7 linked regions of the Homo sapiens genome follow. The protein of the gene in region 1 interacts with the protein of each later gene in a biochemical or structural test. Each region holds a gene or a part of one and is shown in the gene's direction. Other genes may lie near its edges.

Region 1 (3,500 bases):
AGAAGGGGAAGGGAATTGGGGAGGAAAAAAAATCAGAAGGAAGACGAAAGATGGGGCTATAAAAACAAAACTACCTGATAGTTGAAACGCTTTCAGAGTTGTTCAAATCAGTGAGAGTGGCAACGGAACACACAAACAACTAATTATGGAACTCTACTCTGGGGATCCTCTCTGGCTAGATAACCTGTGCTGATGTGCAGACACGTGGACATCCCCCTCTGAGACTGGCGGTCCAGAGGCAGTCTCTGCCAGGCAGCATTACCCGCTCCGAGGTGGAGCCTCAGCCCCCTTCTTAGAGCTGTTAAGTCTAAGGTGTGGCAGAGCAGACAGAGATAGAGGCATCTGAAGTGAGTATAGGTTTTTTGACTAAGAAAAAAAACAACAGCAAACATGACTAGTGATCTTGAAATATTTTGTACCGAGAGAAAGACTGCATTTATTTGTAGAATTTATCAGGTTTCTGATACCACTCATTGGATGTAAACATTTCATGTTTCCTCACTTTTGATATGAAAGTCGGTAAAATGCAGTATTAGTCCCGGGAGGATGTGCACAGCTGGTCAGAGCTTCCAGAAGGAATATCTTCCGAGGACTAAGGTGATCAGGTTAAGAGGGTTCAACATCCCACGGCCCTCACCTTCCTCCCTCCCACATTCCAGGCATGGAGATATCTGGTTTCAGAGTCAGCCCCAAATCTCCTGCCTATAATTACTTTAACTGGGGTCTCTAAGGTTCCCACTTGAGGGCTAAAATGTAGTTGGGAAAGAGGGCCTACTGGGGAGGTCTCACAGGAGGCAGTGCCCTGGGAAATGCCAAGTCCAGACTCAGTGCCAAGCAGTAACCATCTGCACTCGGGGACAGCGAGGAGCTGACCATGGCCTCTGATGACCAGCAGGTATTAGATGGAAGTGAATGAGAGAGAGAGAGAGAGAGAGTATGTGTGTGTGTGTGTATGTGTGTGTTCGAACACATATGATTGCCAGTATGGAGAATGAAAGATTAATAATGCTTTCTGGAGAGTTTGATGCAAAAGTGGGGGAAACGGAGAAAAGGCGCTAAGGCTAAATCCATCTGCATTTGCTATATTTCATTAGCTAAAGTCAGGTCAGGGCAGGGCCAAGGCCTCCAATTGGCAAAGGACAGTGTTATGGCTTTAAAAAGCTGAAACCCCAACCTCTAAGTAGATCACAATGTTTTCTGAGCTTTGCAGTAATTTTCTATGGAAACTAAAACCTCTAAAACATACAAGCTGGCCCAAATGAGAACACAAGCAAAAGATGTGGAAGACAGCAAAACCTGAGCACTGGTTTGAACCAGGCACTGACATTTGAAATGCTTTAAGCCTTTTCACATTCCTTCTTTATTCCCTCCAAAAAAAAAAGTCTTGAGTTTAATTTAGGTCTATTTTGGCTGAGATTAGCATACCTCTGACTCACAGGATTTAATAAATTATAGTATTATTGAATACATAGGACATCCCTCTACCCCAGCTTACTCTTATCTTTTTAATTTAAAATAGTATTCTGCTACCAAGAAGGATGCAACTGCTAGTTTTAGATGTAAATAGTGTTATTTACTGGACTTTGTGATATTATTTTCTTAACTACACTTTACTATGGCCCTGTTGAAAACAGACTATCAAGTTTTTTGTCTCTGTTCTGTCATCTCTCTTAAGCCAGGCACCTTTAGAGTGTTTGCAATTTGTTCGAAGTGGTTGAGGATCTCAGGCCCTGCTCACGTGAGGTGGAGTGCAGGGGAGCTACCGGTTTCCCTGCTGACCTGCTGAATGCTACCTTCCCCTCGAGTTGAATACACCTTAAGGAAAATGATAACACGAGGGACGTGTAACTTGTTTTGAAGCATTAAAAACCAGCAGCTCTTCACTATGTTCCATATTTTAACCAAACTACTGTAGACTACTAAACATAGCCAAGCCAGAACATTCCTTCTGGATTAAGCCTAGGCCACTTGAGGGGCAGCCAGGGGTGATGGTGTCAGGTGAGAATCCTGTGTCTTGAAGGAGTGGCCTTTACAGGAAGAGTGCCCATGTTTTCACCTGCAGCGTTGCCACCAGAGTGTGCAATACCTCCTGCACACAGGCTCAGGGTAAACTGCTCCAAAGCTGGGTTTTGTGTTGCATACAAAGTCAATAAAATAGTTGCTAATCCTGAATGGCAGCCAGTGATGTGAAGGTACTATTAAAGTGAACAAAAACTAGATTGCAACAGTTTTCTTTCCTTGCTTGAAGTATAACACACGCTCCATTTGATCCTGCCTGAAAGAAGCTAACATTATATTTGTGACAGACAGAGGCTCCATCAAGCCAAGCAACAATTAACAGCTCAAGTGTAAGATTTATAAATGCCCGTGTACTCACCCTTCAATTGTTACCACCCAGAGGTTACAGGACTCTTTCCCAGCATTTAGGGGAACAGGCTTTTAGAGTATTTAGAAGACCAGGCTATAATCAGTAATGTGCCTGGGAGCAGGAAATAGCTCCCAATTTATTTATGGCCTTGGGAAAACTCAATCCGGTGTCTCCTTGTAGCTCAGAACACTAATAGCCCCCCTGGAAGAGAGTGGCACATTGAGCTCCAAACCCAATCAACATACATCCACTTGGCTGCAGATCTGACTGCTGGGTCATGAAGGCCGTGAAATGATGTTTGCCCTCAAGTCACTAGATATTTTAAGAAGCCCTATTTTTCTCCCTTTTTGCAGGAGTAGAGAGATGAAAGAGGACAGACCATTGAAAACTTTTAGATGCAGGAGAATTGAGACTTCCACAAGGGAGAGAAACACAGCCTCCCCAGAATCCATTATGCCATCGGGTTGTGGCACTCTCACCCTTGCCATAATACCGTTTCCTAACAATATCAAATCAGTGGATGAAATACAAGCTCAGAAACAGGAACATTTTCCTAAATCATAACCTAATAGCAAACAAAAATTGAAAAAACAATTATTCTGAAGCTCATTATTCTTAGATCTGTAGATATATATGTGTTGACTCCCACAGGATGGCACCAAGTAAAGATCTTAAGAGCATAGTAGGGGTTCTGAGACCGACTGTCACCCGTGGATCCTGATGGGGAAGAACAGAGGCTTCACTGTAGCTATAGTTTTCCACCAAGTCAATCAAATTAAAACATGACTCATTGTCCCCTCCAAAGATTCATAAAATTCTTGAGCTAAAGTGATCTTCTGAAGAAAAGCCACCTAACAATGTTAGGAGGCTCATAAAGCTCATTTCTCTTTTCCCTGGTATGCACAAATATCAAGCCTATAAAAAAGTAATTATTTCCCCAAACCTGTAACCACTGCATTCGTTTTCTTTGGAGGAACATTGTAGCATTTCAGGAGGGTCGAGAGATCTAAAGAGTTTGGTCTGAATGTGTGTCTGTACAATTCCCTTTGGCATTAAACTCTGAAACCTACAATCAATGGCCTTCAAATTGGTGTTAAATTGGGAGAACACCCTACTGCTTTCTGAGTCTACG
Region 2 (4,045 bases), on another chromosome or scaffold:
GGTACCCCTATATATTCCAATATTCTTAAAATGGTGTTCAGCAAAGGCGATGATTCTATCTCCAAGTTAGTTCATTCCTTTAACAGTTTCATTTCAGCCTGTGTAACTGCTTTAGGTGGGGTGGAGGATCTAACGAAAAGGTCTATTTCGTTGTCAGGTAAAATTCTGCGTGGTTTTACGTAACTTTCCTGGCATAGATAGTGAAATAGTATATCTGGTGGGAAACCTCTAAGGATAGAGGATCTGGGCCTATAAATGACCTGAACCAAAGTTGTTTTTGTTTGTGACTGTTCACTTCCAAAAACAGACCAAAAAAGCTATGCAGATGTGGGTTATGTCAATCCTCCATCAATAACATTTAACAGATGCTTCCGAATGCCTGCTCCAAGCTCCTGACACTACTGGATGTGCTGTCTTTCTGTCCTTCACCGTCCCATTGCCAGGGACACAAGGGCCAGGCTTTTGGTCCATGCCCAGGGCGTTTGTCCACACCAGATTCCTTCGCTGCATCTTTTTTTTTAAACACCAACCAGAGCCCGGCGGATTGATGCACACTGTGGAAGACACGCAGAAGCCCAAGTAAGTCCCTGGCCCTGGAGCATTTGCGGTGTGCTCAGTGACGAAGGGGCGGAAATTCTTGTCATGTTAAATCCATGGCTCTCAGCACACTTCTCAATTCCAGAATCGCCCACAACGATTTTCAAAATTGAAAAGGAACTGGGATTTGTGCCTTGAGAGGGTCCCCAAACCTTGGAGCCACTCAGGGTGCTGGCTTTTGGCTACACATTCCCACCAAGAGATTTCATTCTTGCAATTTTCAAGGCCAAACATCTCTTAATCAGCGAATCATTCCTCAAAGGGCTGGAGGCGTTCCCAGCCCTGACCAGTTCCCTCAGCCACCCTCAGGTGCTGCCTTCACTTCCAGCAGAACTCTCCCTAGCCCTCCTGGACATCGCTGTCAAGCAAGTGTCTTGACCTTCCAAGAAAGTCACCTTCTTCCGTCAGCACTGGTTTCACAGTATGCCATGTCTCTTATCTCCAACTTGTAGCAAATTGTCCCTCTTTCCACACTGTGCTCCTTGACCCGTCCAGCTCCACATTCCACCAACAGACCATCCGAATCACCCACAGCTGCAGCTGTAGAAAAAAGCAAACAAACAAAAGCAGTTGCTCGTTGATCAGAATCGACCAGCATGCATCTAGGGCCCATAGCAGCCTAAAGGCTGAGAAGCTGAGTTACTCAATAGCAGAAAAGTCCAAAGCAGTGTGAGGACAACCGCCAGGTGGTGGCTCAGAGGAGGACACAGTCGCTGTGGGCAGGTGGTCAGGGCGCAGGAGGGAATGAGCTGTGGATTTTTAGTAATCTACAACAATCAGGCAGTTCCAGGACACAGGGAAGTGAGTGTGAACAGCCAATGGACCCGGAGCCGAGAGCCTGGGCAGGCGTAGGCTGGACTATGGACGCCCTGCAACCCTGCCAGGCTGGGAAGGGGAGGCTTGATCCTGAGCGCGTGTTAGGAAGGAGATGCCCAGGTTCAGGTGTATCGTGCATTTTTTTTCCACAGTGCAGAAATGACATTTCTGGTTGGTCTTGAATGTCTGCTCTGGCCAAGCCACCTCCTCTCATGCTAGCTAACCAAGTGGCACGTGTGCCCACGCAGGCCATTCTAAGGAACACTGTAATTGTCTAGACAATTTTCTCTCAAATACTCCGTCCTGGAAGCGTCTGGTTGGCAGAAGAGGGAAGGCAGGAGGGTGGCAGCGTCCCGGCTGAGTCCTCTTGCACATGGGAGCTGGAGTCCAGCCAGGCTCCAGAGCGGCTCCGGCTGGCAAGGGACCTGAACAGGAAGATGAGACTCGAGGTTTTCTGCATGTGAGTTTGGGGTGAAGCTGTGGATGTGGGGTGGGCGGGCTGGGGTTGACAGTCATCTGTTTTGGAAGCCCTTAGGCCCTGCCGGTTAGATGTGCATGCAGCCAGGGGTCCGAGCGTTCTCCAGAGGAAGGGACCGTGCTGGCCCCTACAGGAAAGGAAGCTGCAGGCTGGTCTGGGTGGCCTCCAGAGGACCCCACGCAGCTGGCATGAGGGCAGCCAGGCTCCTAATGAGCCAGGAACGACAATAATCCAGTTCCTGAGTGTTTGGGCAGAACTCTTTTCATCGCTTACCAGGCCTGTTTGGGAGGAAGGACTGAATCTGTTCAGTGTTTTGAGGCCACAGCTCAGCTCGGGGAGCTCAGCGCCACTGCCCCCTTCTGTCTGCTGGGACTCCCTCGTTTTTCTGCAAAGAGGGCCAGGCAGACTGTTCCGAGTTTCCAGACTTGGGAACATTCTCCTGCTCCCTAAATACACCCCTGCCCTCCAACACAGACACATATTGGCATGGCAGGAGAGGGGGGGAAGTGATAGATCTCTCTCAATGAGGGTAAAAAATGGTGCTGAAGAGGAGAAATGCCATGCAATTTGAGACGTGAGTTAATCCTTCAGTTACCTGGGGCCCCACATCCCCAACAGCTGCCACGGCTTCCCAGGATGGGCAGGAGGGACCCAGGCAAAATAGAAAAGGAACCAGGATTAGTGTCCTGAGACCGTCCCCAAACCTTGGAGTGCTGTCCTCACTGGCTTTAACTGGGTGCTGGCTTTAATTCCCGCAGTGTTCAAAGCCAAACATCTCTTGATCACTGGGTTTCATTTTTGAAGTCTTGGGAAACCAGAGGACAGTTCATCATCGTGTGCTTCCAGGGGCTGGGCCCAGGTCTGCTGTGAAAAGATGCTGTCATCTGAGCTCAGCGTTCATGCCCGTGTCTCTCAGTCACTCACTGGAGTTGGGGACGGGCTTATCTGTTAGGATGATAAAACTTCCATAGCATACGCCTTGCATTTGCTGGTATCTGTCCCAAAGGGCTTGTCAGTTTTTACATATATTATCTCAGCATCTTCTAGATGTCTCTGCAGAGGAGCTATTCCTATGTAGACAGTCATTCCTGTGTAGACAGTGAGTAATAGGCTGAGCAGCTTGCCCAAGATTAGTCAGAATTGAAGCCAGCGCCAGCCCCCATCCTTATCTGGCTCCAATCTGATTTGCATATCTCAAGCTTACTGTGTTTTATTTACCCATCTGTATAAAGGGTTCAATGCTTCTTAAGACATCTACAGAAAAATCTATAAAAAGGAAGACACGTAGATTCTTCCTTTGGTGCTATGAAAATGTCACTATTAAATATTTCCTGTTTTCCAGTTAGTTTTTAGTTTTTAGGTAAAGATCAATAAAATGGAATATGTCCATTATTGTTTTTAAAAAAATCATTCTGTTGCCTATATATCAGAAAAGATCTTTCATTACGCAGAGTAAGAAGTCTAAAAGTCTGTTTTCAAGGCTAGTGCCAATGTGTTTTTAAAACGCAGGTGGCCAGCCTTGCCAGTTCAGGAATGATTCTTGGCGTTTTCAAACTCAAACGTTCCTCCTTCCAGCTAATCTGTGGATTCTTCACTCGCACCATTTGCAGGACAAGTGGCTGCCAGGGCCAGGGACTTTTCACCGGGTGACCAACAGCAACATAGTGTGGGGAATTTTCTACTCTGGGCCATTTGCTGAGAGGGCTCCTGGGCCTAAGCTGCTACCACCTCCTTTATCTCTCCCTGTCGGGTGACTCTATAAAAAGACAGGAGAAGCTGAGGCTCATTCACTCACTTTGTCCACTTCATTCCCAAGAGAAGTGTCGGGGGGACCTGCCAGGCTTAGGGGAAGCTCTGAGCTGAGCCCCTTGTGCAAAGAGGCGAGCCACCCAGAGGCAGCTGTTCCCTTCTAGGCCTGGAAGTGCACATGCTCATCTACAGCTTTCTTGGAAGAAGAAAGAAACAAAAACTGAGATTTAGAACACCAGGTCTGTTTCCACTGGCGGCCACTCTTGGGCACTGGAGACCAGCAAGAGCTTTGTTTTTAAAAGGCTCTTCCATGGCAGATATTCGCAGAGGCATCAGGGCTACACTTAAATGAAGGTAAAGTAAACATATGAAACCATATTTTCGATTCTACAGAACACTGCAAGA
Region 3 (4,131 bases), on another chromosome or scaffold:
AGTCCTTGGGGTTCAGACCTTGATAGATTCATTTTGTTTCTCATGAGCATGATGCCGGGTACATGTGCTATTAAAGTTTGCTGGGTCAGGAAAGTGCTAGGATGCTGCAAGAACATCCAGTAAAGGGCAGAAATATAAGAACTACCATCCTTGGCTGGAGGCAATAGAGTACTGTGGCTAACAGGCAGGCTCTGGAGTGGGATAGACTTGAGTTCAAATTCATTCTTAGCAGCTTCCAGCTGTGTAACCTTGGGCACCCTCTCTAAAGCTTCAACTTTTAAGACTGTGGAATGGATCTCAACTGTCAAATAGCACAAACCTCACTGGACTGAATGAGATGACCCACGTAGTGGCATATGGTAAGTGCTCAACAGCTATTAGTGGATTGGTGCTGGTCCAAGGGAGGACATGCCAGTGCAGCCCTTAAAAAGGGAGCTGGAGAAGAAAGGAGTTTGGGGCTGCATTTTCACATAAGGTGCCAGGGCCTGATGCTGAGCAAAACCTTTGTATTGGGTGCCACCGACTGTCATCTCTTGTTTAGGTTTGACTGGGGAAACGTTTCCACAGACATGAACTAGTTTGTCAAGGCTGGCAAGGGATTTTCAAGGGTTTAGGGGTGCAGTCTAGGCTCAGAGCTCAGAGTGCAAGCCACAAAAGAGAGCCATCTTCCTGAGTCACCAAAACACTTGATTCGGGCCTCTGACCCTTAGCTGGCAGCCCCTTAGGATAGGATGGGCTGTGCCTGGGTCTGTCTTTGCTGCTAGGGGCTCTGAGAGAGGAAGCCCCATTTGTCACTTTCATTTCTATGTCCCCAGCCCCTTGCAGTATGCTTCATCCTAAGCAGGCATTCAAAGTGCTTGTTGAAGGAATAGATTTGTGTCCTAGTTACAGCCCTGACTTCCACTAGATGCTCAAAGATTGCCCTGATTTTGCAAGGAAGAGCAACTACTCAGGGAAACTGAGGCACACTTGTAGGTTAGAGTCCCTCAGTCTGCAAGGAGACACACACATCCTCAGCAGTGGGGAAGTGGTTTGGTTACTGAAGCTGTAAATAAGAATTTTGTCTTTATATTAATTCCTACTCTGATTCTAGGGAAGAACTCTCCTCTCAGGCTGGAGTAAGGGGAGAACTGAGCTCAGACACTGCCTCTTAGTTGTGGGGGCTGCAAACTGCCCCTCCCTCATGATATCTTCTCAGCTGTTTGCAAAACAGTCAGGGAGGAGGTGAAGCCCTGAGCCAGGCGGCCTGTCTGTCTCTTTAAATGCTGGGGTCTGTGTGGGAGAGGGAGGGGCCGGCTCTGGAGTGCGTGAAATTCCTGGGCTCCTCCAGCAGTCTCAGGCTCAGCGCTCAGCCCTACACATCGCCTCTTGCATGCAACTCACAGAGAGGGAGAGGCAACCTGTCCTCCCCTCTCTCAGCCTCGGCATCTCCAGCCACCAAGGACCTGCTTTTCGCACCTCCAACAACCCCTCCCTTCTACCCTGCCACTCCCTCCCAGAGAGAAAGGAAAAGGAGAGAGAAAGATTCTGGAATTTGAACCTACCCAAAGAGGAAACATACCCAGCAAACTCAGTTGATTAAACATCAAACAGACATACAGACAGATCCCAAATCTTCTGTTCAACTGGAAAGGTAAGGTTTGCGGGGAAAGGAAGGCAGTCAGGGCATGAAACAACTCAAGGTTCTTGTCCGTTCTGGGAAGAGGTTGCTCCTGAGAGGGTAGAAGTTTTCAGTTGGGAGCAACCAACCTAGATTTTCTTTTTTGAATACTGTATCCATGAGCCTTGGCTGACTGTGGAAATGGCTTTTCAACTGCCTTTCTTTTCCTTCAGTTTCTCCTGGAAGTTGGGTCCTTTTCCTCCAGATGTTGGAAAAGTCAGAGAATGTTTTAGATTTTTATCTTCTTCTTCTTTTTTTTTTTTTTTTTTTGAGTCTTTCTCCTATTTGCTTGAATTGTTAGTCTGAAATGATGTGTGCTCATCACTTCATTTTGGGCAGATACTTTTTTTTTGACATTTTGTAGTCACTTCCCCCCTCATTTATTCATTTATTTATTTGGGCTGGTTAAAATGAGAAACAGAAAGGACACTCTGAGGATCACAAGAAAACAAAATTGAATTGAGACAGGGATTTCCCTAGCTGTTGAGGAATTGACGTGTATGTGAGTGTGTGTGTGCTTTTTTTTTTTTTTTTTGAGGGGGTGTGAGGAGGTGGTCCTAGAGTCTAAAAATTCAGGTTGGACTCCTGTCTTGTGAAGGTGGGCATACTTGGAGAAGGTGAAAAGGGAGTGTGTGTGTGAGTGTGTGTGTGTGTGTGTGCGCGGGTGTGTGCTCCTGTTTGGATCGGTTACAAGGGAATCTTCCTCCACTGCCTTCCATTTGTTTATATTAATGATTTAGTAGCAGGCTTGCCTGAAAACTTCCACTCTGTGTAAGCACTGTGGGTTTTGCAAGCTCTCAGTGACCTTAAAGCCTGGTTCGATGTATTGTTTTTTCCAGGCATTGTGCTGTACCCAGAGTTTCAGCTCTTTCCCTCTCTCTTTTTTAACCACAAAACTTAACTGCTTTAGAAACATCATCCTGATGACAAGGAAAAAAATGTGTCCCCCCACCCCCCATCCCTTCTTAGGCCAGTGATGTAATACCAACCTAAGGGCTCGGCTGCTTTGCAGGTGACTTACCCTGTGATTACTTGTTAAAAAAAAATAAAATTTTCCCTTCCTCCATTAAATGTCTGCCTCTTTTAATTTGGATGTAGAAATATCATCATGCAATGAGAACATCATATTTTTGCTAACCATTATTGGGGTTTAGGTAAAGTAGGATTGCTCTTCTCTGATCTTTATTGTTAATACTTTTTTTTTTAATGCAAAGGTCAGAGATCATTGAGAGCTAGCTTAGGATGGAGCAAGATAGAGTCAGGGCAAATAAAAGAGCTGGTAGGACAAGAGCTGTCTTCTCCCCGCTTCCTTCGGTTCCCGCTTTGGGGAGATAGTTTTTCTTTTACCACTACAAGCCACCCCAACATTCTTCTTTCTTCCTCTCCGCTGGGTCCTGTGGATGGCCCTGGGAGGGAGAGGGGGCACTCCTTGTCACACCTGGAGGATGGTGTAATTTTGGGGGTCAGATGACCGTTTGCCTTTGTGATGAAGGTTCCAGTGGAAATTTGAACTCCCAGCACGCTGCGTGACTTGGTACCCAGGATAGTCTATCTGGGGGCACCTGGAGGTTAGTCTGGGGAGGCTGGAGAACTGGCTCTTTATTAATTTGCCGTTCTGGGTAGAGCCTTCCTTCATCGTTCAAGGGCTTCTGCATCGCCTTTCAAGTTAAAATGGTCCCGCTGGTTATGATGGGCAAGTTTACCTAAGGGCTACTGGGTATGTGGCGGAAGGATGGAGGGGAGTGAGAGGAGGCAAGGCTGGTATTTATTTTTTAATCTTCGGGCTTAATCTGCCTAAGTCATATGGGGCAAACGATATTTCAGACGGGTGCTGGTTGTGCAGATATTCCTATTGTTTGATTTTTTGTTGTTGTTGGGGAGTGGAGTAAGGGCTCTTGGCCCATTTTCTGCAGCCTGAGGTTCATCCTGCGAGTCAGTCTTCCTTCTGGAAGGGGGGGAAAAGGCTGGACACTGGAAGTTCGCTATTAAAGTGAGCAACAGGGCTGGGTTTATTTTTTAAAAACAACCGGACTGTGCGAATGCCCTTTTCTGGAGCTTTCTGGCCCTTTCTAGTGAAATAATAATTTAAAAAAAATTGCTTCTTGAGAAGAGGAGGGGGCAGAAATTAAAGGGATTCTAGATTTTGAGAGACAGCTACGTCTTTGCTTCTCTGGTAGTTCCCTATTATTAATTATTGGGGTTTTGACGGCGTTCTGGCCTCCGTTTTTGTTGATTTCATTTTAGTGCTGCGTTTCTCCTGACTATGTTGATGATTTGCTGCTTATATAAGGGAAAGGATGTATTGAGGTGGACTGATGCTTGGGGTTTTGAGATCGGCTACTGAGATTGGGTGGCGGTTGGTGTGTTTGTCGATGTGCATGGTAGGAAGGTCTTTTCTTTTGGGTGGTAGGGGATGAGAGAATGGTGGGAGAACGGTAGATGAGATGCTACAGCAAACGGGGATGTGGGGG
Region 4 (3,500 bases), on another chromosome or scaffold:
GTGGCGGTGGCCCCAACAAATGATCTGGCCCTTTTTTTACCTGGCTGCTGTGGGTGGAGGGCAGGAAACGCCTATGCTGGCCTTTTATACCAGGTGGAGAGGGTTCTACAACCCCTGTTGCCCCAGCTGGCTGAGGCCTGCCTTCTCCCCACCCCTGGCCTTGGTGCTATGTCTGTTTTGGGGTGTCCCAAGCCTGAGGGGGCAGCTTGAAGTCATCGAAGGAGTAGGGATCCTGGAGCCAGCTGATTCAGGGTTGAAATCCTGGCTTTGTCACATTCCTGCTGTGTGACCTTGGTGAGTTCACCTAACCTCTCTGAACCCGCAGTCTCCTCTTCTTTAAAATGGGACCTCAGGGTTGCTTGAGAATTAGTAATATAAAGTAATAAAGTAAATAAAGTACTAAAGTAAATAAGGAGCGGGCTGCTCCTGCAAATCTTGTTTTTTTTCCATTCACCTGCCTTGGTTTTTGTTCTTTTTCTGTCCCTCTCTGGGTCTTACTGAAGAACTACTGCTTGGGGGTGAGGAGCAGGGTTTTCTTTTGGAGAGAGGGGGAACTAAGTTTGAATAATCATGGATGGCCTGAAGGAGAACTCTGGGGGTGGGGGTACCCTTAGAAGGAGACCAAGGGCCGGACTCCCAGTTGGAGCCAGCAGGACTTAAGCCAGATGAGAGGAAGCACATTCTAGGGTCCGTGGTGCTGAGTTTCTGGGGGCTGGTTCTCCAGAGCTGTTGAGCAGCCTGCAGTCCATCCTGCATGATGACTCTTCAGGCCCTTCCACTCCTGGAACTCCAGAGAGGCCTTGTTATTTGCAGCTTGAGCCCAGGACTTGGTGAGACTGGGTGCTTTCCATTTTCCTCCCAGCCAGGGAGCATCTCGGCTGTGTTCTGTCTGTCACATGGGCCCTGGCCCAGAGTAGGTGACTATTGATGTTTACGCAGGATCTCAGGGGTGGAGAGTCCTAGAGAGATGGCCAGCCCTACAGCCTGACATCCCACAGCTGATGGCCCAGCCACAGCCTGGGGCCTTGCCAATGGATTGGGGCTGGCTCTCCAGCCTTAGATGGTCCCACTGAGCCTCCCACCACTCTTGAGGGGCTGGTGGGATTCCCCTTATTTAGAGGAAGGCTCAGAGATGTTAGGCCACCTGCCAAAGCACACACAGCCAGGAGCTGGTGGAGCCTGGTGTTCATTTGCCCCTTCTCCTACCCTGGAGCCCCATCTGATCTTGTCGTCACATCCCCTACTTAGCCAGGGTTTTCTGGGGGTGCAGCTGGGACTGGGGATAACACTGACTTGGGCCTTCATCCTGCTTTTGGATGGGCCATGGGCTTCCAGGGTGCTGTCTGGTGCTGCTTCACCCTGGGGTTAGCCTTGGCCCAGGCGACCCTAGAGATTCCTGTACCCCCTGCACTGCCAGCTAGGACCCCCCCATCCATCCTGCCCTCCCCCATCCCTGCCTGCCAGCCCAGACTTTAATGAGGGTAATTTAGAATCAATCACCAGCGGGATCTGGGAAATCTAATTGCAGCAAACTGATTGCCAATTCGATTGCGGGCACCAGGGGGCTGTGGGCGGCTCATTAGACCTGTCCCCCTCCCTGGGCTGGGGCTTGGGGGTGCTCCGTGGGGGATGCAGGGCCTGAGTAGGCAAGGCTCCTGGAGAGCTGGGGGGAGGTGGACTGTTGTTTTGGGAGCAGGGGAAGGGCATTTTTACCTGACAGAAGCCATACACTATTCCCTGTCCAGGCCCACAGTTGGGGTATAGGTGCCTGTGTCAGTCTTTACCCTCTGTCATCCACCCCTTGCTTAATGCCCCCTCCTCAAGGCCTGGATGCCATTGTTGGGGGGTGTCTGCAGCTGCATCTTACCTGGTTCCTGCCTTCAAGATGCTCCCTGTGTCAGGGAGACAGACACAAGCACAGATGATGACGAGGAAGATGATGAGAAAGATAACGGCCAATACTTACTGCTGCATGTCATGTGCTAGGTGTGGTTCTAAGTGCTTAACATGCTTTATCTCAGTGGGTCCTCACTATGGCCCTGTGAGGCAGGCATGGTTACCCCATTTTACAGATGGGGGCACAGAGGCCCTGAGAGGTTGAGCAATGTGCCCACAGTGGGGCAGTTAGCAGGACTCTGAGCCTGGAGCCTGGGTGCTTATGGAGATGCTCGTTCAAGAGCGTGGGGAAAAGAAAGGGCGATCAGACTGTTACTGTGTCTATGTAGAAAAGGAAGACATAAGAAACTCCATTTTGATCTCTTTCTTTTCCCCACACAAGGGCATCAGGCAGACGTGTGGGCTCCTGCATGGGCGCCTGTCTTGATTGACTGCGTTGCTCACTCAGCAGACATTTACTAAGCACCTGCTGTATATGAAGCCCTGTGCAAGGGGGCTGTCAGTGTTCAGTTGTGTCGTGTGTGTCCTATGTCTTGTCTGGCCATGTCTTGCTTCAGGCAGGTTTACTGGTGGCAGGTGCATGTGCTTTTGTGAGGTCTCGAGGGGGGAATTGAAGAGAAGCAGGGAGGAAGCCCTACCCCTCCTCCCTGACAGGCTGAGCCCCAGCTCTGCCATTAGAAGTGGGTGGATTTTGGCTGGGCGAGGTAGCTCACGCCTGTAATCCCAGCACTTTGGGAGGCCAAGGCGGGTGGATCATGAGGTCAGGAGTTCAAGACCCACCTGGCCAAGATGGTGAAACTCCATCTCTACTAAAGACACAAAAATTAGCCAGGCGGTGGCAGGTGCCTGTAATCCCAGCTTCTTGGGTGGCTGAGGCAGAGAATTGCTTGAACCCGGGAGGCGGAGGTTGCAGTGAGCCGAGATCGCATCACTGCACTCTCGCCTGGGTGACAGAGCGCGACTGTCTCAAAAACAACAAGGCAGGCTTGGTGACTCATGCCTGTAATCCCAACACTTTGGGAGGCCGAGGCGAGCAGATCACAAGGTCAGGAGTTCGAGACCAGCCTGACCAACATGGTGAAACCCCATCTCTACTAAAAATACAAAAATTAGCTGGGCATGGTGGTGCACACCTGTAATCCCAGCTACTCCAGAGGCTGAGGCAGGAGAATTGCTTGATCCTGGGAGGTGGAGGTTGCAGTGAACTGAGATTGTGCCACTGCACTCCAGCCTGGGCAACAGAGCGAGACTCCATCTCAAACAACAACAACGAAACGAAGAAGTGGGTGGATTTGGCTAAGTGACTCTTGACTCAGCCTTAGTCTCCTCTTCTGTCAGACAGATCCAGTGATCCCTGACCCGTTAGGTGGTGGTGAGGAGTGGTGGGAGGTGCAGATGGTTAAAAGGAACCTGCTGCTGGGTGATGACTTTTAATTATTATACATTCCCCAAGGTGGTTGTGTCTCAGAGGTGAATTTGCCACTAGCTTGTCAAGTGGTAGCAGGCAGCCTGTTCCCTCTCTGGGCCTCCACTTCCACGTCTGTTAAATGGGAAGAGTGAATGGTGACCCAGGGGCCCTTGTAGTCTTCAGATTTGAGGAACTA
Region 5 (3,500 bases), on another chromosome or scaffold:
ATATTCCTTGCCACACAAACCCTGACTATCCAAATCCAGGAGACTGAAGGATTCTTGCAGATATTCAGATTAGGCCCTCACATGCCAAATTATCAGGAGTCAATTTCTGAAACTCAGGAACCAAATAGATTAGGATCATATGCTATCCCTTCCTTTCCAAACTCTGGTTACTGAGACTCACTGCTTGACCCCAGTTACTGTGTTGAGCTCATGTTTTGACCCCCTGCTCTTTTATGTTTCCATCTTGAGTGATGCAGTTGAGAGTTCCATATCTTTTTGTATATGATTTTGGAACAAGTTTCTGTATTGACACTTGAATTTGGGTGTGCTAGGTAAGTGCTGAACATCCTGATGGCATCCTTCCAGCAAGCCACGCCACAATGTCCAAATGATATTTCCTTATCTCTAGTAGAACCTTGAAAGTGGGATGGCTGGGTCCAAGGATTAGTGCATATAGCTGGGTGTGGTGGCTCATGCCTGCAATCCCAGCGCTTTGGAAGTCCGAGGTGAGAGGATCACCTGAGGTCAGGAGTTCCAGATCAGCCTGGCCAACATGGTGAAAACCTGTCTTCACTAAAAAATACAAAAAATTAGCCAGGCGTGGTAGCAGGCATCTGTAATCCCTGCTACTCAGGAGGCTGAGGCAGGATAATTGCTTGAACCTAGGAGGCAGAGGTTGCAGTGAGCCAAGATCGCGCCACTACACTCCAGCCTGGGAAACATGAGCAAAATTCTGAGTCAAAAAAAAATTAAATAAATAAAAAATAAGTGGATGTATAGTTTGGCTAGCTATTTCCACACCCTTCTCCACAGGAGATGGATCATTTTGGACTTCTGCCTGTTTCCCCACAGCTTTGTCAACAGAGTGCATTGTCATCTTTGGGAACAGTTTTGTATACTGTTTTGTCTCTTACCACCTTTTTTCCTCTGCAGACAGAGAATGTCCCAGTTACACTATCAGAGGAGAACCGTTCTGAAGGAAAAGTTGGTTTTCAGGCCTATAAGAATTACTTCAGAGCTGGTGCTCACTGGATTGTCTTCATTTTCCTTATTCTCCTAAACACTGCAGCTCAGGTAAATAATGACATTTGTTTTGCGCCCTCAAAATGATATTTACAGTACCTATGTTTATGCTATTATGACTGCATCTTGCAGTTCACTTGGGGTCTGAATTGAAATGTGCTGTCTTTGGGGAACAAAGTGAGGGCTGCCTACTGGTGTTCCATGTCCGTTACAAAGACCTGCGAAAAAAGGGTATCTTTCAATGATTTTAAAATGGAATATGCATTTTCTTGAACCCTTGATATCTGGGAGTTTGGGCTTGGCACAGACCTGAGCTGGAAGAACTATGCGAGTTCTCTGAGCCTTTTATTCTTTCTTTCTTTCTTTCTTTCTTTTTTTTTTTTTTTTTGAGATGGAGTTTTGCTCTGTTGCCCAGGTTGGAGTGCAGTGGCGCGATCTTGGCTCACTTCAACCTCTGCCTCTGGGGTTTAAGCAATTCTCCTGTCTCAGCCTCCGGAGTAGCTGGGACTACAGGCACATGTGCCACCATGCCCAGCTAGGCTAATTTTTGTATTTTTAGTAGAGATAGGGTTTCACTATGTTGGCCAGGCTGGTCTCGAACTCCTGGCCTTAAGTTGATCCGCCTGCCTCAGCCTCCCAAAGTGCTGGGGTTTACAAGCATGAGCCACCACGCCCGGCTTTGAGGGCTTTCTTTCGGTTGTCCATGTTAGCGATTGAGAGTTTTGAGTTGGTAAGTCATGCCCAAGTTTGATTTTTGTCTTTGTTGTTTCTCCCCTCCTAGGTTGCCTATGTGCTTCAAGATTGGTGGCTTTCATACTGGTAAGTTATTTCTGGTCTGATGTATGAAATACTCCAAAATCAGTAAGAAGACTCGCTTTTCCATAGAGTTAGAGGGAGGTGTTTGTTGATCCTTCTCTTCTAATCCTCACTTCGTTTACCCGAAGAAAAATTAGAGTGCTTGCTGGTGGAGTGTAAACTGCGGTGGTCTCCACCCATGTCTGATCCGCGGCATCATGTTCACAGACAGTTTCGGGAACTGAAAGTTGTGATTTAAATTGAATTTTTATAAGGTAGATATACACAAGACTAAGTGAGCTGAGAATCATTTTCCAGCATGAAGCGTTTCTCCCAAATTGTGGTTCATTTTTAAAAAAATGTATTTATCTAAATTTCATATATAGCTTAATATTTTTTTCTCCCCATGTTCCATAGGGCAAACAAACAAAGTATGCTAAATGTCACTGTAAATGGAGGAGGAAATGTAACCGAGAAGCTAGATCTTAACTGGTACTTAGGAATTTATTCAGGTAAAGTTTAATCATTTGGTGTATTGTATGAGAGGCTGAGGTGCTTACAATGAGCCTGTGTGAGTAACTAGGGCTTCCAGGAGTCATTCAGTAATGTCTTAACAGATCAGGAGTCTCAGTCGAATTTACTCTGTGAATTAATTAGAATAATTATTTTAAAAATCTACTAGAAGAGAGGTTGACTGAAGACTCTTAATTTGCTCTGTACTGGATTTTGAAAGTTAAACCAGGATTGAGCATTCAGAAAATCAGCCACTGGAAATATGTGGCTATTGTCTATTCTAATAGGTTGCTTTAGCTAAATCTTATATCATTATACGGATGGGCAGGGGGATTAGAAACGGATCTCCACCCTGTGGTTCGGATGGTTCCAATTCTGTCTAAATAAACCCTGGCTTTTATTGAACTTGGATGAAATCCTCTGGCAGCAAGGCCCCCAAAATAAAAGCATTATTCCCTCCCAGGTATGCAAAGCTCCCTTCAGCACTGCTCATCTCCTGGGCTTCACTAATTACTTAAGAGGGAAGCTGAGCAGGGAAAAATCCAGTGTCTGGGAATTAGGATGCCTTCTATTTCTTACCTTGAGATCACAATGTTATCGCGTCCCCAACTGTGTGATTAATTTAACATTTGGCTTGCCAGACTAATATTAACGCCACACTCTGTTTTCACAAGAGTGCTTAGAATGTATGTAGCATTACATACTGTTTAAAGAAAATCTTCATCTAAAATTTTAAATATTTCCACAGGAAATGCTCCTACAAGCTTTCCTCAGAGATAGAGTGAGTTATCTTTGTAAGAACCTACTCAGTGAAATTTGGTGTTTATTTCATCGATCGCTTGCTAAGAAATCTAAATCTGTTAGGTGTTTACCTTCCAACTGATGGACTATGTGGAAACTAAAGGAAGAAGGAAATCTATTATGTTCTATTATGTTCGTGTAGGATGGCAGGCTAAGGATAATGCCCGTTGATGGAGTTAGGAATTTGAGCTGCTTTCAGAGGTTAAATAACAGTGACATGTCATCTGAAAGGGAAATATTTGTTATAGAAGTTACCCCCACTGTATTTAGCATTGTGAATGAAGAGATGTTAGGAAAGCTCTTTTAATTTCTATGTGAATAATGGATCCTCATTCATGTCTTAATAAAATGTATGATTTATTTTATTC
Region 6 (3,500 bases), on another chromosome or scaffold:
GTTCCCTATGCTATAATGTACAAGCAACAGAGAATGGGGGGGATTTTAGTAAGTCTTCCTGGCGATGGTGGTTTTAATAATTGGCAACAAAGGCTACAACTGATGCCAATCTATCTCTGGCTAGGGCCCTAGGACTGCCCTCCAGCCTGGGTTCATATGACTTGTTTCTCTGGACAGGTCTGCTCATGTCTGCTCTCACGGTTTTCATCCTGATTCTATACTTTGTGATTGACAACTTTGTGATAAATCGCAGACCATGGCTCCCTGAGTGTACTCCCATCTACATCCAGTACTTTGTCAAGTTCTTCATCATCGGCATCACTGTACTGGTGGTGGCTGTGCCAGAGGGGCTGCCTCTGGCTGTCACCATCTCACTGGCCTACTCTGTGAAGGTGAGACTAGAACAATCCTATCTCTTCCTTTAGGATAGAGATGGGAGAGAAGGGTACCATGTAACCTTTAGTGAAAAGATAAGCCATTCTATCATCTATAAACTTTGGCTGGTGCCTCACAAGAGCAGAAGTCCCTGGTATTATGGAAGGACCATCTCTGTCAGATGCATCAATGTTGAAATGACCCAGCAGAATCTTAAGAGAATGACAAAAATGGTATCTTGGATTTTTTTTTTTTTTTAAGACAGAGTCTCATTCTGTCACCCAGGCTGGAATGCAATGATGCAACCTCCGCCTCCCGGGTTCAAGTGATTCTCGTGCCTCAGCCTCCCAAGTAGCTGGGATTACAGGTGTGCACCACCATGCCCAGTTACTTTTTGTATCTTTTACAGAGACAGGGTTTCACCATGTTGGCCAGGCTGGTCTTGAACTTCTGACCTCAGGTGATCTGCCCGTCTCAGCCTCCCGAAGTACTGAAATTACAGGCATGAATCACTGCACCCAGTCAGTATCTTGGATTTTTGTGTGGGACTGGAAGATGAAATGTGGAGAGATGTTGGCTAGGAAATGGCCTTTGACCTAGATTTAGGAGAGTCCAGTTAGTCCCCCTCTCAAGTCTTTTCTCTTCTCCTTTGTAGAAAATGATGAAAGACAATAACCTAGTACGGCACTTGGATGCTTGTGAGACCATGGGCAACGCCACCGCCATCTGCTCTGATAAGACAGGCACGTTGACCATGAACCGCATGACTGTGGTACAAGCTTATATTGGGGGCATCCATTACCGTCAAATCCCAAGCCCTGATGTCTTCCTGCCCAAAGTCCTGGACCTCATTGTCAATGGCATTTCTATCAACAGTGCTTATACCTCCAAGATTCTGGTAAGCATTTCCTTTGCGTAGACACTTAGAGTGGGTGGTTGGAAGGGAACATCCATTTTCTCTGAAATGAACCCCCTTATTGTTTACACTGCCTAAATTGCCATCCCACATCCCATTTCTCACGCTGGAGTGAACATGTTTGGGTGAGACTACAGAAAAATCCCTGGGAGTCAATGGAGGGTTGGAGGTAAGGGCCTGTAAGAATCTATGGCCAGGAAATACCCTCCCAATTAGCATGTAAAAGCAATGTCTCTAAGGAGGGAAAGTAGAAAGTAACCCAAAGTAGAATTGGGCTTATCAGAAGTAAATTACTCACTTTCTAGAAACAAGCATAGTGTATTAGAATAAGACCCACACAAGGCGAGACACCAGCACTACCACTAGAGCAAACTACAAAATCCCTAAGCCCTGGATGGCACAAGGATCACGGTTACCACTGACCCCTCTCTGCCTACCCTTGAAAAACAACAGGCTAGGCATAGTGGCTCACTTCTGTAATCCCAGCACTTTGGGAAGCCAAAATGGTAAGATCGCTTGAGCCCAGGAGTTCGAGACCAGCCTGAGCAATATTGTGAGACCTCATCTCTACAAAAATAAACAAAATTAGCCAGGCATGGTTGCGCACCTGTAGTCCCAGCTACTCCAGAAGCTGAGGTGGGAGGATCACTTGAGCCTAAGAGGTCAAGTCTGCAGTGAGCTGAGATCACACCACTGCAGTCAAGCCTGGGCAACAGAGCAAGGTGCTATGTCAAAAAGAAAAAGAAAAAAGATGCCAGGTGCTGTGGCTCATGCCTGTAATCCCAACATTTTGGGAGGTTGAGGTGGGCAGATCACCTGAGGTCAGGAGTTCAAGACCAGCCTGGCCAACATGGTGAAACCCGGTCTCTACTAAAAATACAAAAATTAGCTAGGCATGGTGGCAGGTACCTGTAGTCCCTGCTACTCAGGAGGCTGAGGCAGAAGAATCACTTGAACCTGGGAGGTGGAGGTTGCAGTGAGCCAAGGTCGTGCCACTGCACTCCAGGCTGGGCAACAGAGCGAGACTCCATCTCCAAAAAAGAAAAAAAAAAATGTTATTTCCCCTATGAGCTCCAGGTATATAATGTGAAGGCTTTGTAAATGAGTTCTTTCTCCCTAAGTTCTCTGCCTTGTCAAGGCATCTTACTCAATAGTGCTGTGTATATTTCTTCTCCCAGCCTCCAGAGAAGGAGGGAGGCCTGCCTCGGCAGGTGGGCAACAAGACCGAGTGTGCTCTGCTAGGCTTTGTCACAGATCTGAAGCAGGATTATCAGGCTGTGCGTAATGAAGTGCCCGAGGAGAAGCTCTACAAGGTGTACACCTTTAACTCAGTGCGCAAGTCAATGAGCACCGTCATCAGGAATCCCAACGGTGGCTTCCGTATGTACAGCAAGGGCGCCTCTGAGATCATCTTGCGCAAGTGAGCACCCCCGACCACTCTGCTTCCCTTCAAGATCCTCTCCTCAGGAAGGCATGGGTGCACACCCCACACTGAACCCATGTGAATGAGGGAGCCCTCCAGCCAGGTGGTGACATAATAACTAATATCCAAGCGTCTACTCAGGCCACGCATGTTTTTTAAGTGCTTAAGGTGGCTTGTTGTATTTAATCCTCACAACTCAGTAAGGTGGGTACTATGATTATCCCTGTTTTACAGATGAGAAAACAGAGATATAAGGAAGTTAAGTATCTCACTCAAGGTGATACAGCTAATAGTGGCACAGCCAGGATTCAGACCTGGACGATCCTAAGTTTCCATTTCCTAATCTGAAAACAGAGATAGCCATACTCAGCTCCTAAAAGTACTACCCCCTCACTGTAACTAAATGATTCAATGTATGTAAAATGCCTTATACATAACAAGTACTAGAAACGTTTGTTCTGTGTTCTCTTTTCCTTCTCTTTCCTTCCCATTCCCATTTCTGATTACAGGGAATTTACATAACTTTAAAAGTGACTATTCGGCCAGGCGCAGTGGCTCACGCCTGTAATCCCAGCACTTTGGGAGGCCGAGGCAGGCAGAACACGAGGTCAGGAGTTCGAAACCAGCCCGACCAACATGGTGAAACCCTGTCTCTACTAAAAAAAAATACAAAAATTAGCCAGGCATGGTGGTGCGTGCCTGTAATCCCAGCTACTCAGGAGGCTGAGGCAGGAGAATCGCTTGAACCCAGAAGGCAGAGGTTGCAGTGAGCTGAGATCGCACCAC
Region 7 (4,116 bases), on another chromosome or scaffold:
GTAGATGGACTTTATCAGAGTGAGTCATTCCATTCTGTTCCAAATTTGCTGAGAGTATTCATTTGAATATATGTTGATTTTCATCAAACAGTGCATCTATTTCGATTACCACAGCGTTTTTTCCCATTCATGTGTTAATATAGTGAATTCGATTGATAAATTTGTACGTTTTTAGGTTCGATTATTAAAACTTGAGACAGCGTCTCACTCTGTCACCGAGGCTGGAGTGCAGTGGTGTTATCAGAGCTCGCTGCAGCCTTGACCTCCTGGGCTCAGGCGCTCCTCCCACCTCAGCCTCCTGAGTAGCTGTGAGTATAGGTACATGCCACCATGCCCAGCTAATTTTTCGATGGTTTTTTGTTTGTTTTTTGTAGTGATGAGATTTTCTGATGTTGCTTAGGCTGGTCTCGAAGTCCTGAGCTCAGGTGATCTGGCCAGCTCAGCCTCCCAAAATACTAGGATTACAGGCGTGAGCCTTGGCCTGGTCTGGTTTTTCTTATATAGGGGTCTTATCTATATAAAGACTAAAGTTAATCTGTGCCTTTGTGCGGGTGGGCTAAGAGCATGATGACTTTTATCATTCTATTGATTTAAAGAAAACTATCCTTGACTTACCAGTGTGTAAGGCCATGAAAGCATAATTCTGTTGAAAGCATATATTGTTAATGGGTGTTGGGAACCGTGCACTTTCCGCTGCTGTGGGAGCATGTCCTTGGAGGTACCTTTCATCTGTTTTCTCAACTCCAAACATCTTAGGACCATGGGTTGTGACTGGTAGGACTATGTATCTTGCTGCTTTCAAGACGGAGTATATTTTCACGTGGTTTCACTCTGGCTGTCCTGTTTCCCTAATACTGTCACTTCACCCTCTGTGATTCTGATGCTACAAATGATAGATATCGTTTTAGCATTTTCTTACGGGTCCTAGCGATTCTATTCATTTTTCTTTCAGTCTCTTTCTCTGACTTGTTCACAATGAACAATTTCCTTTTGGGATAGGTTGCTATTTCTGTTTTCGCAGGTGGTTTACCTGTCTTCCCAGCCAGTCACAGTGGTCCTTGTCCCCATGGTGGGTCCGGGGCAAGAGAGGGCCCTGGGTTGGGGGTGGGGTTCAGTTGAAGATGGGGTGAGTTTTGAGGGGAGCACTACTTGAGTCCCAGAGGCATAGGAAACAGCAGAGGGAGGTGGGATTCCCTTATCCTCAATGAGGATGGGCATGGAGGGTTTGGGGCGTGGCGCTGGGAACGGCAGCCCTCCCCAGCCCACAGCCGCGCATGCTCCCTGGGCTCCCGCCTCAGTGCGCATGTTCACTGGGCGTCTTCTGCCCGGCCCCTTCGCCCACGTGAAGAACGCCAGGGAGCTGTGAGGCAGTGCTGTGTGGTTCCTGCCGTCCGGACTCTTTTTCCTCTACTGAGATTCATCTGGTAGGTCTGCAGGCCAGTCATCCCGGGGGCTGAAGTGTGAGTGAGGGTGGAGAGGGCCTTGGGTGGGTCAGGCGGGTCCCGCTTCCTGGTCTGTGGCCTCCGAGGGAGAAGGGCCACGAGGTCGTCCTCCTTCCCTTCACAGGCTGCGAGGCCACCGGCGGCTTCGTGGTCGTGAAGGGGCCTGGACGGGGAGGAAGGTGGGCCGTGGAGGGGAGGCGGTCAGGGGCTCAGGTGAAGATGGGGTGAGTGCTGTTGGGGGGATGGAAGTCCCGAGGTGCCGGGAACCCCCGACGACACAGGGCAGATTCCCTGAATGGGGCCTCCGGCGGGGGCGAGGCGGGCGGTGAAGAAGGGGCCTGGCACCTGGGAAGGCTGCGGCCTGGTGAGCGCCCCCCCCAGCGGTGTGGAGTGCGGAGCGCCTGAGTGAGAAGCACTGCAAGGTCTCACCTCCGCCATGGAAGGTCCGAAAACAGTGGGAAGGAGTGGGCGAGGCAGTGCGGTCCAACCAAACTTGTTGTGAGGGGGGGTGAATGGCTCTAGGAAGTGGGAGTGTGCCCAAAGCAGCAATCACGAGAATTGTGATTCACTAGGGTTTTCGTGGGGAGTGCACTTGTGAAACTAAACCTCATCAGAAATGACCTCTGTCTGCGGGGCGCAGTGGCGCTCGCCTACGTAGTCCCAGTTACTCGGGACACTGAGGTGGGAGGATCCCTTGAGCGGGAGGTCGAGGCTGCAGTGAGCTGTGATCACGCCGCTGCACTCCAGCCTGAGCAACACAGCGAGACCGCGTGTCCAAAAGAAATTTAGAAAAAAATGTCCTCTGCCTTTTGCCACATGCCTTAAGATGATTGCTCTGCCAGCCTGGCCAGCAGAAGTGGCTTTGTAGGCACTCAGACAGCGTACACACGTATGCTTAACTCTGGGACTTATCTTGAGAGTATTTTCAAAAGTAAAACGGCAAGTTTACATTTATCCATGGAAGTGATCGAATATAGCAGCCCTGTGGAGCGCACGTTCCCAATCACGGTTGTCTGTTTTCAGTGTGAAATATGAGTTGGCGAGGAAGATCGACCTATTATTGGCCTAGACCAAGACCCTATGTACAGCCTCCTGAAATGATTGGGCCTATGCGGGTGAGTGCTTGAACGTTAATTCGATGTTTTCTATTAGTAGAAATTAATTTTTGTGATAGCGTTGTTGCATTAGTGTGGAAATGCTGATAAAGGTCTTTCCTGCTCATAAAAAATGATGATGGCATCTCATGAAGGAAACATTGATTCTGGAGGATTTTTTTTTTCCTCTCGTGTTCTTCAGCTTTTGCCCATGACTTCTTTCTCCGGCTTTGTTTGTTAATGACAGATTGTACACATGTATTCCAACACAGAGTACAATAGCCTCCAAAGTCCTCGTGCGTCACTTTTCTCACAGTAACCTCCCTGTGGGTGGAGTAACCTTATTGGGCATAGAGCATAGAGTTGGAGAAATGTCTTTAGGCTTAGTTAGGACCAGAAATAGCTATGTATTCTGTGTATATATGTAAAATTTTGTATCAATAACGAAACTTATTTTTTATTTGCACACCCACACGTATTCCCCAGCCCGAGCAGTTCAGTGATGAAGTGGAACCAGCAACACCTGAAGAAGGGGAACCAGCAACTCAACGTCAGGATCCTGCAGCTGCTCAGGAGGGAGAGGATGAGGGAGCATCTGCAGGTCAAGGTGAGGGAAAGGGAAGAAGAACGTCTGCTGGTGTGTGCGTGTGTGTGTGTTCGTGTGTGTGTGTGCATGTGTGTGTGTGTGTGTGTGTGTGTGTGTTAGGCATTGTCACATAGGAGGAAGAGGAGGAAAGAAAACAATGGAAAGAATGCCTGAAATTGACTGGAAAAGCGAGGAGGCTATGTAGTTTGCAGCTTAGCTTAGGCAAATCCCTCACTATGATAAAAGTTCTCGACTTTATGAATGAGAGAATGGAGGTGCCAGGATTGTGTGTTATCCAAGAACCCTTGACTGGTGAATACAACATTTGTATTGTGTTCCAAGGTTTGTGTCTTCCTATCATGTGTGTTGCTGTAAAGAAGGAAGTGATTTTGCTGAAAATGCTTAAAACTCAAAAGGCTTTACTGTAAGGTAGCTTAGTACTGACCCAAGAATAGACCCAGTTCAGAGGAGCAGGAGCAGCTCCAAAAACCGAGTCGCTGAATGTTGGCCCCCGTTTCCTTTGATTGATATTTTTATATGGTACGTTTGATAAAAGCTGGATAAATGAGGATACTGCCATACAGGTAGCTGGTTTAGTGATTTTTCTCAGCGGCTTTTAGGAGGTGATTAAATCCTTTTATGGTTAGAAAAGCAAAAACGGAATTATCCTGAGATTAACGTGAGATGGAAATAATTTCTCCGAGATAAAATGTTTTGAAAGGAAGCGTTTATGTAATGGAGGTCATGGATTATTCCAGGGATGCACTGTTAAAAGTTCCTAGAATCTGACTGACAACAATGCCCATTAATTGCTGTCCACCCACTCCCTTATTCTCAGTGCGGGACAGTATATTTTCTGTGATTCACAAACAATGTTATATTTGGTGCTTTGTTCTTCACGGGGTTCATTTATGGAATATTACCTTTAGGACCTTCGGACCTAAATATAACTTTATTTGAACAAAGTGAAGTTTCTCTTTACCCCAATAGGTAA

The links.
Region 2: the proteins of PARD3B (region 1) and CLDN14 interact in a test that uses a peptide from one of them, tested with the Homo sapiens proteins (one large-scale study listed by IntAct).
Region 3: the proteins of PARD3B (region 1) and NRXN3 interact in a test that uses a peptide from one of them, tested with the Homo sapiens proteins (one large-scale study listed by IntAct).
Region 4: the proteins of PARD3B (region 1) and SDC3 interact in a test that uses a peptide from one of them, tested with the Homo sapiens proteins (one large-scale study listed by IntAct).
Region 5: the proteins of PARD3B (region 1) and ABCC4 interact in a test that uses a peptide from one of them, tested with the Homo sapiens proteins (one large-scale study listed by IntAct).
Region 6: the proteins of PARD3B (region 1) and ATP2B4 interact in a test that uses a peptide from one of them, tested with the Homo sapiens proteins (one large-scale study listed by IntAct).
Region 7: the proteins of PARD3B (region 1) and GAGE12J interact in a test that uses a peptide from one of them, tested with the Homo sapiens proteins (one large-scale study listed by IntAct).

Annotation. Positions count from the first base shown.
Region 1 is NC_000002.12:205,615,975-205,619,474, forward strand, and holds part of PARD3B (partitioning defective 3 homolog B), read left to right. Parts: 3' UTR 1-3,500. UniProt on the Homo sapiens protein: Putative adapter protein involved in asymmetrical cell division and cell polarization processes. May play a role in the formation of epithelial tight junctions.
Region 2 is NC_000021.9:36,477,323-36,481,367, reverse strand, and holds the start of CLDN14 (claudin-14), read left to right. Parts: upstream 1-1,245; 5' UTR 1,246-1,873; exon of another isoform or gene 1,874-3,994; intron 3,995-4,045.
Region 3 is NC_000014.9:78,169,042-78,173,172, forward strand, and holds the start of NRXN3 (neurexin 3), read left to right. Parts: upstream 1-1,331; 5' UTR 1,332-1,633; intron 1,634-4,131. UniProt on the Homo sapiens protein: Neuronal cell surface protein that may be involved in cell recognition and cell adhesion. May mediate intracellular signaling. Functions as part of a trans-synaptic complex by binding to cerebellins and postsynaptic GRID1.
Region 4 is NC_000001.11:30,898,759-30,902,258, reverse strand, and holds part of SDC3 (syndecan-3), read left to right. Parts: intron 1-3,500. UniProt on the Homo sapiens protein: Cell surface proteoglycan that may bear heparan sulfate. May have a role in the organization of cell shape by affecting the actin cytoskeleton, possibly by transferring signals from the cell surface in a sugar-dependent mechanism.
Region 5 is NC_000013.11:95,161,952-95,165,451, reverse strand, and holds part of ABCC4 (ATP-binding cassette sub-family C member 4), read left to right. Parts: intron 1-933; coding exon 934-1,074; intron 1,075-1,804; coding exon 1,805-1,842; intron 1,843-2,235; coding exon 2,236-2,330; intron 2,331-3,500. UniProt on the Homo sapiens protein: ATP-dependent transporter of the ATP-binding cassette (ABC) family that actively extrudes physiological compounds and xenobiotics from cells.
Region 6 is NC_000001.11:203,706,832-203,710,331, forward strand, and holds part of ATP2B4 (plasma membrane calcium-transporting ATPase 4), read left to right. Parts: intron 1-177; coding exon 178-392; intron 393-1,030; coding exon 1,031-1,273; intron 1,274-2,469; coding exon 2,470-2,711; intron 2,712-3,500. UniProt on the Homo sapiens protein: Calcium/calmodulin-regulated and magnesium-dependent enzyme that catalyzes the hydrolysis of ATP coupled with the transport of calcium out of the cell. By regulating sperm cell calcium homeostasis, may play a role in sperm motility.
Region 7 is NC_000023.11:49,320,721-49,324,836, forward strand, and holds the start of GAGE12J (G antigen 12J), read left to right. Parts: upstream 1-1,316; 5' UTR 1,317-1,424; intron 1,425-2,465; 5' UTR 2,466-2,473; coding exon 2,474-2,557; intron 2,558-3,022; coding exon 3,023-3,143; intron 3,144-4,116.